Regions from separate parts of the Homo sapiens genome. Here region 2 is linked to region 1. A link means that fine-mapping ties the variant in region 1 to the expression of a gene that starts in the linked region. Tissue or cell type: blood mononuclear cells. Region 1 holds a variant in brackets; the other region holds the start of a gene. All regions are shown on one strand. Distances are from middle to middle. Region 1 overlaps MCMBP (minichromosome maintenance complex binding protein). Region 2 holds the start of MCMBP (minichromosome maintenance complex binding protein).

The links. PIP is the estimated chance that this variant, and not a neighbour inherited with it, causes the effect.
Region 2: it holds the start of MCMBP, and the variant in region 1 is fine-mapped to the expression of MCMBP in blood mononuclear cells (TOPMed, PIP 0.96). The same link has a PIP of 0.9 or more in monocytes.

The regions. Positions count from the first base shown.
Region 1 is chr10:119,841,822-119,851,924 of GRCh38, reverse strand. MCMBP (minichromosome maintenance complex binding protein) reads left to right here. Exons shown (of 16, transcript NM_001256378.2): 7 at 2,349-2,500; 8 at 4,212-4,312; 9 at 8,499-8,671; 10 at 9,330-9,453. Among named protein-coding and RNA genes, the nearest start is that of MCMBP, 26 kb to the left of the region's middle. RefSeq lists an enhancer at 929-1,428. The variant T/C (reference allele first, on the strand shown) is at 6,059.
Region 2 is chr10:119,867,746-119,877,848 of GRCh38, reverse strand. MCMBP (minichromosome maintenance complex binding protein) reads left to right here and starts at 5,006. Exons shown (of 16, transcript NM_001256378.2): 1 at 5,006-5,322. The coding sequence starts at 5,265. RefSeq lists enhancers at 4,477-4,646, 4,512-4,671 and a silencer at 4,902-5,551.

The DNA.
Region 1 (10,103 bases):
TGCCTCGGCCTCCCAAAGTTCTGGGATTACAGGCATGAGCCACTGTGCCTGGCCAAGGCAAATTTAACAGTCAGTGGTAAACAGGGATTTACTAATGAATTTTATTTACCCTTATATTACTCTACTTTATAAATTGATATTTCCAGATTTTCTTAATGCTAAGATATATTTTAATGTGTTTAAAATTGGAATGTTTTACTATAAATACATATAAATGTCGTAGTATTCTTTTTCTCCACCGATCCCCAGAATATATTAAAATTAATGGTCTATCATCTAGCCTGGACAGCATGGCGAAACCCCATCTCTACTAAAAATACAAAAATTAGCCAGGCATGGTGGCAGGCGCCTGTAATCCCAGCTGTTTGGGAGGCTAAGGCAGTAGAATCACTTGAACCCAGAGGGGCGGAGGTTGCAGTGAGCTGAGATCATGCCATTGCACTCCAGCCAGAGTGACAGAGAGACTCCATCTCAAATAAATATCATAGTAACTTATATATTGTAATATATTCGAGTGTGTATTTAAGTCCAGGAAATATGTTAATTCTCTTATCACTTAAGCAGTTGATGCTACTTTTTATTTCTTACCATTCTTGTTTGAATGTCTTAATGCAGGCTTTTTATGCATTTGAGTACTTTATTTATATAAAGTAACACTTGTTGGTGTTTAGTCAATGTTTTAGGCTATACATATTTTTAAACTTTTTATTTTGACACAGTATAGACTTACATGCAGTTGTAAGAAATAATACAGAGAGGCTGGTTGCGGTGGCTCACACCTATAATCCCAGCCCTTCAGGAGGCCGAGGCAGGCACATCACTTGAGGTCAGGAGTTCCAGTCTGGCAAACATGGTGAAACCCCATCTCTACTAAAAATACAAAAATTAGCTGGGCATGGTGGTGCACGCCTGTAATCCCAGCTACTTGGGAGACTGAGGCAGGAGAATTGCTTGAACCCGGGAGGCGAAGGTTGCAGTGAGCGCTGATCGCCACCATGCTCCAGCCTGGGTGACAGGGTGAGACTCTGTCTCAAAAAAAAAAAAAAAAAACAGATCTTGTATACCTTTTAGCCTCTACTTCCCCCAGTGGTAATACCTTACGTAATTATAGTAGAATGTCATAACCAGGAAGTGGATATTGATACAATCATTTTTTTTCCTTTTTTTTTTTTTTTTTAGACGGAGTCTTGCTCTGTCACCCAGACTGGAGTGCAGTGGTGCAATCTCTGCTCACTGCAAGCTCCGCCTCCTGGGTTCACGCCATTCTCCTGCCTCAGCCTCCCGAGTAGCTGGGACTACAGGCCCCCATCACCACGCCTGGCTAATTTTTTGTATTTTTAGTAGAGACGGGGTTTCACCGTGTTAGCCAGGATGGTCTCAATCTCCTGACCTCGTGATCCACCTGCCTCAGCCTCCCAAAGTGCTGGGATTACAGGCTTGAGCCACTGCACCTGGCCTGTTCTTTGCAGTTTTATCGCATAGGTAGATTCATGTGACCACCACCACAGTTAAAATCGGGAATATTTCATTACCCAGATCTCTCATGTTGCCCTTTTATGCTCCTAACTACCACTCTCCTGCCTCCTCCGTCCCCAGAAGTCTCTAGACCCTAGCAACCACTGGTCTCTTCTCCATCTCTTATAATTTTGTCATTTTAAGAATGGAATTGTATATTACATAAACTTTGGGGATTGTCTTTTCTTCAGCACAATTCCCTTGAGATCCATCCCAATTGTTGCATGTATCAGTAGTTTGTCCGTTTTATTGCTGAGTGGTGTTTCGTGGTATGGCAGGCTATAATTTGATTCTCATGTTATCAGCCCTAAAGTGTAACTACTTCAGGAGTTGGGGTTATTCTTTTAATGACCTGTATATCCCCAACAACTGGTTTGATTCCTGGTACATACTGGATATTAATAAGTATTTGGTAAATTAATTTATTGCTGTATGGTTTTATTCTGCTTAATTAATAGAAAAAGTATGTTCTACCAAGGAGTTTTGCTGTCGGTAGACCATGTATTCCTTAAATCAAAGATGTCAAAGTAACCATATTGCAAATCAACTTTTGAAACTGGTTATACATGAGATTTGATGGGAGGAATTTGTTGATATCTTACAGTAAGGGAAAAAAAAGTAAAATTTTTAGATCTTCATGTTTATCTTTGTCCTCTTACAGATCAAACAAAAGACTTTGTTAGTATGTGCTGTTTCCTTAAAAACTGTAACAACTTGAACTTTGCAAGCTCAGAAGCATCACGTATATCAAACTTGAAAGGCACTTATGGAATGTTCTTTTTCTCCAGGAGGCCTTAGAAATGACTAAGTGCAATGCTATCCTTTGAATTTAGGGAGTGTTGGTGGTCTTCAATGGTGTGGAGAGCCAAAACGTTTAGAAACTGAAGCTTCTACTGGGCAACAGCTGAACTCTCTGAACTTGTCTTCTCCTTTTGATTTGAATTTTCCATTGCCAGGAGAGAAGGGCCCTGCATGCCTTGTGAAGGTAATAAAACCTTTCGTAGATCCAACACTGAAATGTTATGTGTCTCAGAAAGTAGCTTAGTGTCTGAGCATTTGCATTTGTTCCCTTGTGCTGGGCTAGCTATAGCAAATCACTGCAAATTTAATAGCCTAAAGCAGCAAAAGTTTATCATCTTACAGGCTTTAGGTCAGAAATCCAACATGGTCTCACTGGGGTAAACTCGAGGTGCCAGCAGGGCTACATTCCTTTCTCGGAGCCCCTAAGGGAGAATTTCCTTGGCCTTGTGGCTCCTTCTTCCATATTCATAGCCAGCAACATTGCATTTGTCTGACCATTTTTTTCATGTTGACATCTCATCTGACCACAACCAAGAAAGTTTCCCCAATTTTAAGAATCCGTGTGATTACATGGGGCCCAGCCAGTTAATCGAGGATAATCCCCCCCATTTCAAGGTTATTAATTTAATCACACCTGCACATTCCTTTTGCATGTAAGCTAACAAGTTAAAAGAATCGAAGAACATCTCAAATGCAGAAGCAGAACAACTTTTAAATTATGTCTGTTCCCTTCCTGTATCATTTCTAACATAATATCTTCTTCATTTTTGTCTTCTTCCTTCTCTCAGCAAAACCTATTTTTCACTTATATTTAAAATAAAACAGAAGGAAGAAAACTTTTAATAGTTTGTTCTTCCATCTTACTTATTCTAGTGTTTTGATCCTGATAAATGAGCAAGTGATAGAAGGTTCAGAAATGATTGTTAAGGATTTCTATCCTTATTCTTTGTGCATTTTGGGTTTTTTTGTTTTTGGGGGGTTTTTTTGTTTGTTTTTTTGAGGCAGTCTCACTCTCTTGTCCAGGCTGGTGTGCAGTGGCACGATCTCGGCTCACTGCAACTTCTACCTCCTGGGTTCAGGCAATTCTCGTGCCTCAGCCTCCTGAGTAGCTGAGATTACAGGCATGCACCACCACACCCAGCTCGTTCTTTATATTTTTTGTAGAGATGGGGTTTCACTATGTTGGCCAGGCTGGTCTCGAACTCCTGACCTCAAGTGACCCACCCACCTCAGCCTCCCAAAGTTCTGGGATTCCAGGGGTGAGCCACTGCACCCAGATTCTCAGTGGTTTTAACTGAAATGACACTTAAGTCATATGGCACAGGGACCAAAATTACCATTTTTTCCCCTGCCTTGCTTCTACCAGGTCTAATCAGTAAATGGCCTTGACTATTACTAAGTCCATCATGACAGACAATTTTGAAAGGTTTTTTTTTTTTTTTAAATTGTGAAAAATCTTCTGGCCATTCCAAGTTTTGTGTTAATCCGATGTTGCAGTTTATGAATAAATGCAAAGTTAATCATCTTGTTTTTGTTTTTTCCTTTTCTTGGTGTGGTTTAATAGGTTTTGAGATAGTGCACAGTTCTAGTTTTAACTGTCAGCCTTTGGGAAAAGGCTTTTTTTAATTTTAGGAAAAGCCTTTTTTTTTTGTAGTACTGTGGTATATTGAAAACAGACATTAGTCTGGAAGTTAGGCATCCTGTGTTTTGGTTTTTCACTTATTTGCTAACTAGCAGAATGACTCTTGGTCTCAATTTATAAAAATTTATAAAATAAAGGACTTGCTTTAAGGTCTGTTTCCTGATCTAAAATTCCAAGATATTGGTACTTCAAGACTAATATCTTAAGCTTTGTGTCTGTTCTAACAGTGTGATTTCATGTGGTCTCTTGTTAGGTTTATGAAGATTGGGATTGTTTCAAAGTAAATGACATTCTTGAGCTATATGGCATACTGTCTGTGGATCCTGTGCTGAGTATACTGAATAATGATGAAAGGTGAGTCTGTGTGCTCTTTTTTTGGTCTCCTTTATTTTTATATAATTTCAAGTTTTCAGGAGAGTTACAGGATGGTTTTAAAGAACTCCCTTTTCCCTTTCTCCCAGATGTACCAGTTGTAAACACTTGCACCCCATGTGTTTTGTCATTCATTTGTGCTCTCTATGCACACATTTTTCTGAAACACTTGAAAGTATGTTGCAGAAATCAAGCCCTTTTACCCCTAACTGCTTGTCAACATTTCCTAAGAGTACTGACTTTCTCATATATAATTAGAGTACAGGTATCAAAACTAGGAAATTTGCCACAAATATACAATACACTAATCCACAATCTATACTTAATTTCACTAATTGTCTTAATCATGTTCTTTCTTACACGTCTCCCTTCTGCATCCCCCAGTCCAGGGTTCAGAAGCTCGCTCATTCTCTATTTCTACTGAGTTCATACTGTATTTCTGATTCCAGTTCAGCACCACAGGTGTCGTTCTGCTTGTTCTCCTTTCTGTATTAGTGTAACTCTCTTAAACTTGATTCCCATTTTTCACAATCTTATCATTTGCACATTTTTACAACATAGAGAAGGGAATTTCAGAATTGTTAACTCATACCTTTACAAAACATAAACCTAAATAACTAGAGTTCAATCTGAAACAGTCCTCAGCCTTTGTCTTTCATGGTCTTGCCACTTTTTTTTTTTCCTTAAACAACAGAAATATATGTCTTCCAGTAGTTCTGGAGGCTGGGAAGTCCAAAATCAAGTTCCCAGCAGATCTGGTTTCTAGTGAGGGCCCGCTTCCTGGTTTACAGATGGCTGTCTTCTCACGTGGTAGAGAGCAGACAGCCTTGATGCTTTTGAAGAGTGTAAGCCAGTTACCAGTTACTTGTTTCCTCATGGTTAGACTCAATGTTTTGCATTTTTGGCAGGAATATTACAGAATTGATGTATCCTCAGTATGTTACAGCAGGAGGCATGCGATGTCAGTTTGTCCCTTTACTGGTGAGGTTAATTTTCATTAGTTGGTTAAGGTGGTGACTTCCAGATGTCTCTTCTGTAAAGTTACATTTCTCACTTTGTAATTGACAAGTAACTTGGAGGAAGGTACTTGGGGACATAAATATCCAGTTTCTCATTAAACTTTCACCAATTTATTTTAGCATTCATTGATGATTCTTGCTTGAATCAGTTATTACTTTGTTGGCAATTTTCTAACGCAGTACATTTATTTATTGGCATTCTACTATAAAAGATACCTCTTCCATTTGTTTATTCAAGTAATGTATTTACTTATATTTAGTATAGACTAATAGATTCTGATTTTATTCAATGTTAATATCATTATTTTATTTCGAGACCCAAATTTTCCCAGATTTGGCTAGTGGGAGCCACTTTAAGCAGGTGCCGGGTCCTTTTTTTGAGATGATGTTATCATTTTTTAACATTTATTTTCTGGCATATTAAGCTGTTGCAGCTTCATCGTATGCTTTGAAGATCTGAGTCCTAGATGTGCTCGTTGGTACTGGATTAGATTTGCATCTAGGCCCTTAAAGTAGACAGAGCTAGGATACATGCAGCATATGGATACATATATACGCACCCACATTTAAATGCACACATACACACTCACATGCATGTTTTGTGTATTTCTAATGTCTGTGAAAAACCATGGGTTCATATTTCTGATTCCAGTTCAGCACAGCAGGAGTCACATGTTCTAGTTGTTCTCCTTTCTATATTTATGACTTC[T/C]TTTTCTAACAAATTTGATTCCCATTATTCACAATCTGTTGTTTCCCCATTTCTACCATATACAGAAGGGAATTTCAGAATTGGTAACCCATACCACTACAAAACAGAAACCTAGTAATTAGAGTTCAATACATTTCCAGTTCATTTTTATTTTAGAATGCAGCTGTGTAGTCAGAGCTATGTTCCACTTACTCAGGTAACTTTTCTTCCCCTTCAGTGTGATTTCATTATTTATTTTACTTAGAAAGATTCTCAGAGGTGTCATTCTCGGCTATCCCCATTCCTGCTGTCTGTTCCCACCCAGCCTCCTTAGGGAACCACAGTTTCTGGTTTATCCTTCCTGTATTTATTTTTTTACAAAAATATGAAGATACGTATACATTTTATTTCTACCTTTTTCTTCTATAAAAGGTAACATGGTATATATACTCTTACACTTTTTAATTTTTTTTATTAACAACATATCTTGGAAATCTAGACCTTCCTCATTCATTTTTGTTTTGTTTTGAGATTGCCAAAAGCAAGGGCTGATGTCCCTCATCTACACCAGAGTCCTCTTGTTGAATACCGGACATTAATCATCTTAGTTTCTGTGTAGGATGAACTTAACATTTTTCACAGTTAAAAAAAAATGGTACAAAACAAAAATTTTAAACAACTTTAAATAAGCTTAACCGTCCCTTAATAATAGTATATGAGATTGTTCATCTTGGCAATTTCTGATTGTGATGACTTTCCTGCTTTAGTTACTTCACTATTGATGTAGTTTAGTTTAGAGGTTGTATTAGGGGTCTCTAAAGGGTCAGAACTGATAGGATAGATGAATATATGAAGGGGAGTTTATTAGGAGAATGACTCACATGATCACAAGGTAAAATCCCACAATAGGCTGGGGAGCAAGGAAGCCAGCCTGAGTCCCAAAATCTCAAAAGTAGGGAAGCCACCAGTGTAGGCTTCAGTCCGTGGCTGAAGGCCTAAGAGCTCCTGGTGAACCACTGGTGTAGGTCCAAGAGTCCAAAAGCTGAAGAACTTGGAGTCTGATGTTTGAGGGCAGGAAGCATCCAGCATGAGAGAAAGGTGGAGGCGGAAGACTCAGCCAGTCTGCTCTTTACATGCCTGCCTTTATGCTGGCAGCTGATTAGATGCTGCCCACCCAGACTGAGGGTGGGTCTGCCTCTCCCAGCCCGCTGACTCAAATGTTAATCTCCTTTGGCAACACCCTCACAGACACATCCAGGAACAATAATTTTCATCCTTCAATCCAGTCAGATTGACAAAGTATTAACCATCACAGAGGTTAAGAGCACAGACAGGCAGGCAGCCTGGGTTGGAGTCCTGACTTGGCCACTTACTAGCTATGTCACCTTGGGCTTGGTTTCCTCATTGTAAATAAGGGTAGATGTGAGGTTTTGGTGAATTTGTACGTGTAAGGCATTGAACGTTGTCTGTCACATGGTACGTACTATGGAAAAGGTTATTATGCTTGTATTAAAAAATACAGGAGTATGAATTTATTACTTCAGTGTCTATAGATTCTATAAAGTCAAGATCTAAAAGATTAGCTATTTGTTTTGGTCGTCTCACAAATCTATCATCTGCAGATTTATTTAGCAAGTCTGAAAAATTCATACTTTCATTGCTTGTCTACTCAGTCTTCGAGGGATCATGTAAGAATTAAATTTAGGAAAAACAATTAGCAAGATAAGAGATGAATGGATTCTCCACACGCTGAATAATAGATACCAGATGGCTTTTGAGAAAAAGACCCCAGTTTTTGAGATCTGCTGTCAAGTATTCGATGTCCCGGCCAATAGTTCAAGGAGTACCTGTGTTTTGAAATAGCCTTATGAGTGACATCCTACATTCCATTTATTGAAGTGCTGAATAACAAATATTATTGTTTCTGGCCAGGCATGGTGGCTCACGCCTGTAATCCCAGCACTTTGAGAGGCCAAGGCAGGCAGATCACTTGAGGTCAGGAGTTCGAGACCAGCCTGGCCAACATAGTGAAACCCTGTCTCTACTAAAAATACAAAAATTAGCCAGGCATGGTGGTGTGCACCTGTAATCTCAGCTACTCAGGAGGCTGAGGCATGAGAATCGCTTGAACCCAGGAGGCAGAGGTTGCAATGAGCCAAGATCGCATCACTGCACTCCAGCCTGGGCAACACAGTGAGACTCCATCCAAAAAAAAAATAAAAATAAAAATACCGTTCTTGAAAAATTGAATAAATGCATTATTTCATGATATGTCTTAACAAGCCTGAAGTCTGTGTGATGTAACACTTTAGAATGAGAGGCCACTTTCTGTTCTTTAAGGAGATGTACAGGTGGAAATATTCTTGGCTTTAACTCTAATTTTGTTTTCCAAGATGCACATTATTTTTGCATCTGTGCAATTGATGTCTCTCTAAATTGAAACTTTATCACCTCTCCACAGGGATGCCTCTGCACTGCTGGATCCGATGGAGTGCACAGACACAGCAGAGGAGCAGAGAGTACACAGTCCTCCTGCTTCATTAGTGCCGAGAATTCATGTGATCTTAGCCCAGAAGTTGCAACACATCAACCCATTATTGCCTGCCTGCCTTAACAAAGAGGAGAGCAAAACCTGTAAGTGTAAGTGTTACAGCCTAGTCAACTATCGACTGTTAGCCTCAGTGTGTCCAGAGCTGCCTGTAACGTGCTCATAGTGGAATTGAGAGTCAGGTCTTCATTCCTCACAATAAGTGTTTTCAGTAATCTCTCTCTCGTTGCCCCATTTTTCTCTTACATTAATTCTCTTCACTGAAATGAGGACAAAAGAGTATACAAGGCTGGGTGCAGTGGCTCACGCCTGTAATCTTAGCACTTTAGGAGGCCAAGGTGGGTGGATCACCTGAGGTCAGGAGTTCGAGACTAGCCTGGCCAATATAGTGAAACCCTGGCTCTACTAAAAATACAAAATTAGCCAGGTGTGGTGGCGTGTGCCTGTAATCCCAGCTACTCGGGAGGCTGAGGCAGGAGAACTGGAGGCAGAGGTTGCGGTGAGCTGAGATGGCACCATTGCACTCCAGGCTAGGCAAAAAGAGCAAAACTTGGTCTCAAAAAAAAAAAAAAGGAGGATGCAAACTGCCTTATTTTTAAGATTAGCATCACTTACTGACGGATATGTTAAGCTTTACCTACTGTCGACTGAATTGTGCTTTGCTCACGTAGTTATTTTTTTACCTAAGACACTTGAGAGGAACTGGAGTGTGTGTCCTGACTCAGGTCTTCCTTTCTCCTTCAGTTGTTTCAAGTTTCATGTCCGAATTGTCTCCAGTCAGAGCAGAACTTCTTGGGTTCCTTACTCATGCCCTTCTGGGGGATAGTTTGGCTGCTGAATACCTTATATTACATCTCATCTCCACAGTGTAAGTGCTGTATCCTGGTGGGAATTAGGGGAGTTTGGTGTGTGTGGAAGTGGAAGAGCGGGAAGATTGCTGGTGTCATTTGTGTGTTTTCCTTATTGGGCTTCATCACATGGTTTTTATCTGTCCAGTGTTAACTGTTATACCAAATCACAGACAAATTCCTTTTCTCACAGTTCACATTTAGCATTTTGATTATGTCCCCTTAAATTTTAGAGCCAAAATCAGATAAAGCAGTGGTCCCCAACCTTTTAGGCACCAAGGACCCATTTCATGGAAGACCATTTTTCCATGGACCGGAGTGGGGATGGTTTCAGTATGAAACCGTTCCACCTCAGAACATCAGGCATTAGTTAGATTCTCATAGGGAACACACAGATGTGCAGTTCACAATAGGGTTCGCGCTCCTGTGAGAGTCTGATGCCACTGCTGATCTGACAGGAGGCGGAACTCAGGCGGTAATGCCCACTCATCCACCCCTCACCTCCTATGTTGTGGCCCGGTTCCTAACAGGCCATGAACCAGTACTGGTCCACGGCCTGGGCGTTGGGGACCCCTGAGATAAAGGACCTGGCTGATGAGTAAAATGAGCTGTTTTATCCCTTTTGCATTCTGAACGCTCTGTTTATACATCCCAAGGCGCCCACGTCATG
Region 2 (10,103 bases), 26 kb before region 1:
TTTCCTGTACAAGTTTTTGTTTTTGCAGTCTTAAAGCTTAAAAATCTTTCCCCCACAATTTTCACCTAATTTACTGTTATTTATCTTTCAAATTCTAGTGTAAGTGTCACATTTTCAGAGAAGCCCTGAAGCATCCTTTTCTCCTACCCCACAATTCTTCCCCATTCTCTTGTTTTAGAGCATTTTGTGCTGCCATAACATTGCCACAGACTGGGTAATTTATAAAGAAAATTTATTGGCTGGGCGCGGTGGCTCACGCCTCTAATCCCAGCACTTTGGGAGGCTGAGGCAGGCGGATCACCTGGGATTAGGAGTTTGAGACCAGCCTAACCAACATGGAGAAACCCCGTCTCTACTGAAAACACAAAATTAGCCGGCCATGGTGGCACATGCCTGTAATCCCACCTACTCAGGAGGCTGAGGCAGGAGAATCGCTTGAACCTGGGAGGCGGAGGTTGCGGTGAGCCAAGATCGCGCCATTGCACTCCAGCCTGGGCAATAAGAGCCAAACTCTGTCTCAAAAATATATATAATAATAATAAATAAATAAATTTATTTCTCACAGTTCTGGAGGCTGGGAAGTTCAATATCAACATGCTGGCATCTGACAAGGGCTTTCTTGCTGCATCATCATAAGGCAAAGGGAAAAAGGGTGAGAGAAGGTGAAAGAGCATAAGCAAGAGCACGCATGTGTGTGAGTGTGTGTCTGTGCGTGCCTGCACACACGCGGAAGAAAGAGCCAAACTCACTTTTATAACCAACCCACTCCTGCAATAGTGACATTAATCCCTTCATAAGGGCCCTGCCCCTGCCCCTTAAAGTTCCTACCTCTCAACACTGTTGCATTGGGGATTAAGTTTCCAACACCCAAACTCTGGGGGACACATTCAACCCTTAGCATTCCCTCACTAGAACATATACACATCTGTTTATTCCTCTTATAAATATTCATCTATTCTTGCCTAGCACCTCTCGTGAGTAATTAGTAATAAGTCTTCTGCTAGACTGTATGTTCCATGAGGGCAGAGATGGAATCTCTTTTTTCACCCCATATTTCCAGTGCTCTCTCAGTAATTTTTTTGTTTGTTTTTGTTTTTTTGTTTGTTTTTGAGACGTAGTTTCACTCTGTCGCCCAGGCTAGAGTGCAGTGGCACGCTCTCGGCTCAATGCAACCTCCACCCCCAGGGTTCCCCCAATTCTCCCGCCTCAGCCTCCCAAGTATCTGGGACTACCAGCACGTGCCACCACGCCCAGCTAATTTTTTGTATTTTTTTTTAGTAGAGACGGGGTTTCACCATGTTAGCCAGGATGGTCTCGATCTCCTGACTTCGTGATCCGCCCGCCTCGGCCTCCTAAAGTGCTGGGATTACAGGCGTGAGCCACCGCGCCTGGCTGCTCTCTCAGTAATTTTTTATAGACAGAGTTACTTAATGCCCTCCATAAAAATACAGGCTCGCGGTCGGGGCAGAAGTGTGGTTACTGATAGTGGGAAAAAAGAAATCTTGCCATAGAAACAGACCTTCATGAACACTCCCCTGGCCTTTTACATTTTCATGACTACTTATTATTATTGTCATTGTTATTATTTTTAGAAATGGAGTGTTCCTCTGTCTCCCAGGCTGGAGTGCAGTGGTGCGATCATAGTTCACTGTAACCTCGAACTCCTGGGCTCAAGTGATCCTCCCACCTCAGTCTCCCAAGTATCTGAGACTACAAGTGCACACTACCTCCCCCAGCTCCATAACTACTTAGTATCAAAACGTCTTGCCACAGAAAAATCAGAGGGTTAAATTATTCACATTATAAAATAATTACATTTCAGAAGGATCACAGTGTCTCCTTAAGTAAAATCCGAGCAATTTTTTTTTTATAAATCACTAAATACTCTACCAAGGAAGAAACCAAAAGAAGTTTTCACAGAGATGGGATTCACGACTTGCTACCCCAAAATATGGCACCTTGGCATATTAAGTATTTTAAGCTGAAGGAATTTGAGAAATAGCACATGCAGGAAAGGCTCCCTGGCCTTCCCCTGAAGCAGATTATAAGACCCTGACATGAGAGCTGCCCTCCCTCTTCCTGGAGGACAGGAGCATCCTATCTTAAAGATGAAGGGACACGGAAAGGAATCTAATGCACAGGCCTTGCTAAATTTCCCCTAGTTTGCTGGACTTAGCTCACAACCTTTGTCCTATCACATTCTTCTATGACTCTCTTCATCAAACCTAGCATAAAAACACTTGGTTTTAACGCTTCTTTGGATCTTCATTTCCTTATGAAGGCTCCCATTTCTTGTAAAACGTGTATGAAATAAAGTGCATGCTTTTCTCTTGTTAATCTATCTTTTGTTACAGGGGGTCCAACGTAGAATCTAGAAGGGTAGACGGAAAAGATATTTTTCCTCCCTTACACTAGCCACTGCTGAATTGGTATCAAGCTGCAATTTAGATAAAGTAAATTTGAATTTACAGGGATTTAAGAGCAGACATTTCCATATCATACATTTAATTTGCCTGTTACTGGCCATGAAGCGAAAATATGGGATTTCCCCTTTTGATGCCAGGGTCTTGGCAACCCTGTCTCTTAAATGAATGAATGGAATGGTGGTAATGACCTGGATTTGAAACTCAAGTTTTCTCAACGTACCCAAACTCACAGGAACCAGATGTACAATTGAGTGTGTCAATTAATTACCTTACACTAAGAAATACAAACTATTCGTTTTTGCCCTGAAGTAAACCAGAATGTCACCCCAAAATGTGCCACTTTGGCATAAGGATTATTTTCATATTATTAATTTAATTATAATATTATTATCTTGGTAACTGAAAAGTAGATCCAGACAGTCCCCAACTTAACGGTGGTTTGACAAGATTTTTTGACTTTATGATGGTGTGAAAGCAACACCCATTCAGTAGAAACCATACTTCAATTACCCACACAGCCATTCTGTTTTTAAATTTCAGTACAGTATTCAATAAATTGCATGAGATATTCAACATTTTATTATAAAACGGGCTTTGTGTTAGATGCTTTTGCCCAACCGTAGGCTAATGTAAGTGTTCTGAGCATGTTTGCAGTAGCCTACTGATGTTTGATAGGTTCCGTGTATTAAACACATTTTCAACTAATGACATTTTATTTTTTTGAGACGGAGTCTCGCTCTGTCACCAGGCCGGAGTGCAGTGGCATGATCTTGGCTCACTGCAACCTCCGCCTCCCGGGTTCAAGTGATTCTCCTGCCTCAGCCTCCAGAGTAGCTGGGACTACAGGCGTGCGCCACCAGGCCCAGCTAATTTTTGTATTTTTAGTAGAGATGGGGATTCACCATGTTGGCCAGGATGGTCTCCATTTCTTGACCTCATGATCCGCCCGCCTTGGCCTCCCAGAGTATTGGGATTACAGGAGTGAGGCTCCACGCTGGGCCTCAACTAATGATATTTTCAATTTACAATGGGTTTATTGGGATGTAACTCCATCCTAAGTAGAGTAAGTAGAGGAGCATCTGTACAAAACAAGCTCCCTACCCTTCCACTATGTACCTAAGAGCAGGACATACATTTTCAAAGGTGTCCCACCTCCTCTTTCTACCAGGGACAAAAGTTAGTCACCAGAGACAACTTTAGACCCTTATCAGCCAGCGATGGCGCTAGAAGAACCTACATAACACACTTTACTCACTACCTGTAACTACCATTAGTTTCTCGTATCTCTGCCTTCCCACTCTGCTGTTTTTGGAAACTTCAAACTGCTTTCGCCATTTCTCCCCAGTTATTGTTCTTTATTGTAAATGCTACGTAATTCCCCCATTCTAAGCCACCTGTTTGAGTTACTCTTCCTTGAGTTTTGCCCATATAAGATGTACATGTTACTAAATTTTTCTTTTGCCAATCCGAGCTTTGTGATAAGGGCCGCAGTGGAGAACCTAGAAAGGTAGAAAGATTTTCCCCCCTTCCTACAGCCCCAAGGAGGGTTTGAGACACGGGTTCCGTTTTTTTCCTTCAGCTCCTCACTTTGTAGATTCCATTCAGGTCATTCCCCTTCCGTCACCATGCCCTTTTTTCATTGAGTAGATATATCTGATGGGCCTGGGGTTTTCTTAGGTACATTTCAGGCCCAGGGGAGACACAGTTTCATTCTTTTTTTCTTTTTTATCGGACAGCCTCCTGAACCAGAAGAGGTTCAGAGCGACTCCCACAGTTTCACTCTTGAACTTGGGTATTTTCCAAATTGCCTCAGCAAAAGGCTGCTGTAGTCGGTCTTCGTAGCTTCCTTCTCCAGGGTATCCTAGCGGCGCGCAGTGCAGGAGCCTCGCACCGCTCCCCGACGGCGGCTGCCAGCTTCCAGACAGACGCCGACCCGGTGTTCGCAACCAGGGCGCAGGCCGGGCCCGGAGCGTTTAGAGCGCCCGCCCCTCGGTAAGGAACCGTCCCTGAGCCACAGGGCCTGACGCGACTGCAGAAGGAGCGTGGGGTCCTCCGAGGTTCCCCTTCTCTAAATGTGCACCTTCCTCAGGGAGACCTTGTGCAGCTGAGGGAAAAGTCACCACTCAGGGTTTCGGGCCGGGGACCCAAATAAAAGTGCTGCCATCAGCAAAAAAAGAAAAAAAAGGCACGAAGAGGAGGTGGGCGGATTCCCAAGGCGGTTTCGCCCACTAATTTTGCCCAGAGATGACTCTGAGGTCTCTGAGCTTAATGCTTTTCAGCTGTTGTGCAGACTCGCTTTGCCCTCTTATAAGCCCACTATGGGAGTTCCCGCTACACGCCGGCCCAGGGGTACAAACGACAACGCGCCGCCCTTGGAGCGCGTCGCCGGGCCCCGCGCTGCGCAGCCTCCAGCGGCGCTGCGTGCCCTTCCTTTTGCCCGTCTCCAAGATGGCGGCGCCGCCGCCGCCCCTCCTCCTCGCCGCGCAGAGCCGCGCTGCGCCGCGCGCTCCCGCCGCCCCTCCCCACGCGAGCTCCACCCAGGTCGCAGGCAGCGCGGTCGGCGGCGGCTATTTCCCGCCATTGTGCGAAGTGAAGGCTAGGGGCCCGTACGCGCCCGCCTGACTGTCGCCAGCAGCTCCTCGGCGGCCCCACCGCAGCCGCCGCTCCCTGAGGCGCGGGAGGCCCGCGCCCCGCGGCTCGCTGTGCGTGGGAGGGCGCGAGCGAACGCGGGCGAGGAGCGGCCGAGCCGCTGAAGAGGAGCTGGGCGCCGGCCGCCCGGCCGCGCTCGGCCCGCGGATCGCCTCCGCCCGGTCTTCGCCGGCCCCGGCCCCTGGCGAGATGCCGTGTGGGGAGGATTGGCTCAGCCACCCGCTGGGAATCGTGCAGGGATTCTTCGGTGAGTGGCGGCGCCGGGGGGCGGGCCGGGCGGGCAGCCGAGTTTGCCGGGCCCCGGGGCAGGGCCCCGCCGCGCGGCCCCCACGCGGTACCATCTCGAGGGCTCGCGTGGCCCGAGACGGGGCCCCGGGGCCTGCACCGGCCCCAGCTGGGACAGCCTCTCCCCCGGTCGCAGCAGGCAGGGGCAGGAGCCGGGCCGCAGGTACCTCCCACCTGCCCGAGTCGCAGCTTGGGAGCCGCCAAGGTGAAGTCGTGGGGCGCGGGCTGTGATTCGCGGGCTGTGATTGACGGCCTCGCTCCCAGCCTGTGGCAGGGCCAGGGCCCCGGCCCCGGGCGCAGCAAACTCGGAGGTCCTCGAACCCTGGGGAGGGCCCGCAGAGCCGCGGGGAGGGAAAACCACTTTGCCTGTGGGAAGCCCACAGGATATTTCAAAACTTCCGGTGCGTCGGGGAGTGCTCGCTTGCACAGAAGTTGGTTCTAACTCCTGTGCTACCCTCATTCTCTCTTTCAGAGATAAGATTTAATGTTCATAGCTTAGTTTTCCTGTTGGGATGACTTTAGAACCCATCTAGTCTGGATCTGCTCCTGTGCCAGAGCCAGCAAGAAATATTGAGCTACTTGAGTTTGTACACAGGGCTGAGAATCCTGCAGGCGAGCTTAGTAAATTTTGGTTGCGATTGCTGTTGCTACTTTACTGCGAAGGGTATACGAAGAAAAGTTTATATTTGTTGTCGTTAACTGGGCATTTTGACAACCGTTCCATTCCCCAGTGTCTTTTTACACGTAATGAGTGGCGGAGTCAGATCCAGCTAGAAATCACTGTAGATGGCAACACCTGACTTGTCTGGAGTTAACTTAGAGTTGTAGAGCGGCCTTAGCTCATTGAAAAAAACATCTTGGGGTACTAGAGAGAAAAGGCAGTGGGAAGCTAAATCATCCTCAGCAGCCAAAATCGACGGCAAACAATGTATGGTATTTCTTATAGGAGGGCCTCTAGTGCTTACTCAGGAAGTCCTTATTAATTTACCTGTAATTCTAATTAGTTTAGTTACCTGGCTTCCCAGGCTGTAACTAATGGCATTATATTAGAAAAAAGCCTGGATAGACGTCCGAACTTAGCCAGTGAACACTGACAGCCTGATGAAGAAATTTAAAACTACCTTCATACTTGAAAAAAAAAAAAATTCACTATATAGCAGTCAAGGGTGCTTTGAGGAAGGGGCATATATTTCTCCACTAAATCCTAGTAATTTATGTTCATAAGAATTCTAGAAATGATAATCGATGGTCAACACAATGGCCCCAAAATGTCAAGTGAAGATTCAATTGTAGCATTGGTTTAAGAGGGTGCAGATGCATAGATACTTTTTAGGAAAAATCCCTCCAAAGTAAAAAGGTTTGGTGCTTAAAGGGTTAAATTTCAGTTACTAATATTAGAAAGTTTATTTATTAGAAATACCCCATACTCTGATTTTGCTGGATAAATGAGATGATTTCATATTTGATAGAGATTTGAATGTATTTGTGTCAAATTTTGTCTTCTAAATGTATGATCCTAAGGGACACATCTCATCATAGTACAGGAAGGATGTAACTTAGATATAAAATAATAGCTTCAGAGTATTTTATAAATTATGTGGATTGTTGTGGGAACCTGAGAAGTTTCTTGATGTGTTTCTCCCCAGAATGTCTTGTTCCCGTGTACGTTGTGTCTTATAGAAAAGTCATAATGTGTTCGTAGAAGCTGTTGCTATATTTTCGTATCACTGTGATTGTATTGCATATCTTTATTATAACAGCATTACAAGTATGTTTGTGTGATAACTTATAGGCACTTTTTGGTTTAGTAGGAAATTGTTTTCCCCCCAGATAGGTAATGCATATGCATTGTACAGAAAGAAAAAAGCAGTTCAGCAACATATAGCAGAAAAGGAAAGATCTTTGAAGATCCTTCACCTTCAAGATAACCACTGGTTCGTGGTTGTGTAGTTTATTTTCTCTGCATATATTTAGACAGTTTTTTTAAACTGAAAAGTTAAGTTTTGTTGTGTATTTTATTTTGAAATATGCATTTTTTTTTTTTGAGACAGTCTCGCACTGTCACCCAGGCTGGAGTGCAGTAGCGCAATCTCGGCTCACTGCAACCTCCGCCTCCTGGGTTGAAGCGATTCTCCTGCCCCAGCCTCCGGAGTAGCTGAGACTATAGGCCCGCGCCACCACGCCCGGCTAATTTTTGTATTTTTAGTAGAGACGGGGTTTCACAGTGTTGGCCAGGATGGTCTAGATCTCTTGACCTCGTGATCCGCCCGCCTCGGCCTCTCAAAGTGCTGGGATTACAGGCGTGAGCCACTGCATCCAGCAGCCTGAATTTTTCCCTTTCTTACTGTCCTTGTCATATAGTATTGTATAAACTTATTAACCCTGTCATATATTTTAAGTTAGGTGTCACAATAATCTAGAGTGTGCTGTCCAGGGCAGTAGCCATGTGTGGCTATTTAAATGTAAATTAATTAAAATTACACAAAATTAAAAATTCACCTCCTCGGTGTTAGCACATTTCAAGTGCTCAGTAGCTACATGTGGATAGGGGCTATTATATTAGCACAGATCTAGCATATTCCTAACATCAGGAAGTTCTCTGTACAGCACTGATCTAGAGGACACCGCTTTTTAGTATGTGATGCTAGTTTTTTTGGATAACCAGCTACTCACTGACTCTCTTTCAGGATCTGAATTTGGTCACTGTATCTTATCCGTTCTAGGGGTTTTGTTTTTGTTTTTGCTTTTTTTGTTTTTGAGATGGAGTTTCGTTCTTGTCACCCAGGCTGGAGTGCAACAGTGTGATCTCGGCTCACTGCAACCTCCTCCTCCCAGGTTCAAGCAATTCTGCCTCAGCCTCTGGAGTAGCTGGGATTACAAGTGCCTGCCACCATGCCCAGCTAATTTTTTTTTTTTTGAGACTGAGTCTTGCTCTGTCACTCAGGCTAGGGCGCAGTGTTACAATCTTGGCTCACTGCAGCCTCTGCCTCTTGGGTTCAAGTGATTCTCCTGCCTCAGCCCCCTGAGTAGCTGGGATTACAGGTGCATGCCACCATGCCCAGCTAATTTTTGTATTTTTAGTAAAGACAGGGTTTCACCATGTTGGCCAGGCTGGTCTTGAACTCCTGACCTAGTGATCCGCCCACCTTGGCCTCCCAAAGTGCTGGGATTGTAGGCGTGAGCCACCACACCGAGCCGCTAATTTTTGTATTTTTAGTAGAGACAGGATTTCACCATGTTAGCAAGGCTGGTCTCGAACAGGTGATCTGCCTGCCTCGGCCTCTCAAAGTGCTGGGATTATAGGCGTGAGCCACCGCGCCCGACCCAGACCCTCATCTCCAATGCTACTGTCAAAATTAAAGCCATCGTAGTCTCTTTCCTGGACGCTGGAACAGCCCTCTAACTGGTTTCTTGCCTCCAGTCTTGCTTCTCTTCCACCTGCCATACTGGAACCAAGTCCTTCAGTGACTTCTTGTTACCCTTACTATCTGATCCAGGACTTTTAAAGTGGTTTATGAGGCCCTTGTTGGCTCCACCCTTGCCTTGCTCTGAGACTTTATCACTGCGTACCCCCTCCTCATACTCCATCCCAGCCGCACTGAACCTTTTTTCAGTTCTTTAATTTTGAACCTGTGTCTAGGCCTTTTTGCATCTGCTGATTTCTTGTGCCTGATTCCCCCTCCCATCCCATGTCCACTTTTCTGGCTAAGTCTTACTTTTCCTTTGGGAACTTAAGTTAGGTACCAAAGTAGGGTACCCCTGCTCCATGTTACTGCAGGATCCTATTATATATGTCTTTGAAAAATAGTGTGTAAAGTGCATTGTTGAAATTCCTTGTTTCGGAAGTTCCTTTGCTGGATTTTGACCCCGCGAATTCAGGGCCCCTGTATCTGCATTATTCACCACTGTATCCTAATTTCTTAGAATTTGCCTTGTACATTGAAAGTGCTCAGTGGACACTTGTTGAACAAAAGCAGTGAAAAGACTGATTAATCAGAAATGTTGTTAATTGAAATGGCTAGTGAGATCACAAATCTCAAAATTTTTCTTTTCTTTTTTTCTGGAGTCAGTGTCTTGCTCTGTTGCCCAGGGTGGAGTGCAGTGGCGTGATCTCGGCTCACTGCAACCTCCGCCTTCTGGGTTCAAGCCATTCTCATGCCTCAGCCTCTCGAGTAGCTGGGATTAAAAGTGTGCACCACCATGCCTGGCTAATTTTTCTATTTTTAATAGAGACAGGGTTTTGCCATGTTGGCCAGGCTGGTCTTGAACTCCTGGCCTCAAGTGATCTGCCCCCACTTGGCCTCCCAGAGTGCTGAGATCTCAGGTGTGAGCTGCTGCGCCCAGCCTCTTTAGCTGTTTTCCCTTCAACTATTGGTTAGACCAAGATCATTATTCTCGTTATATTTAAGCTTCTTTGGTTGTATCTAACAGAACTAGACTAGCTCATGCAAAAAAGAGCAGGGTTGGGTGAAGAGGGGCAGAGCAGACTATTTTATCACTAGCATTTTAGAGAATTTAAAGCAATAATAAAATGAACTAAAAGTTAGTTGGTCTGCTTTTTATTATCACCATGAATCTAAACAGACAATCTGTGCCCTTATTGTCTGTACCCAGCTTGGACCTCTTCTACCACTCTGTCCTTGGTAGGCCACTGAAAAAAGTTAATTTATATTAAGGCTATAAAACCCAAGAACAGGGGAAGTGGTTGGGTATTCGAAGAGACTGAGTGGAATCAGGAACTGG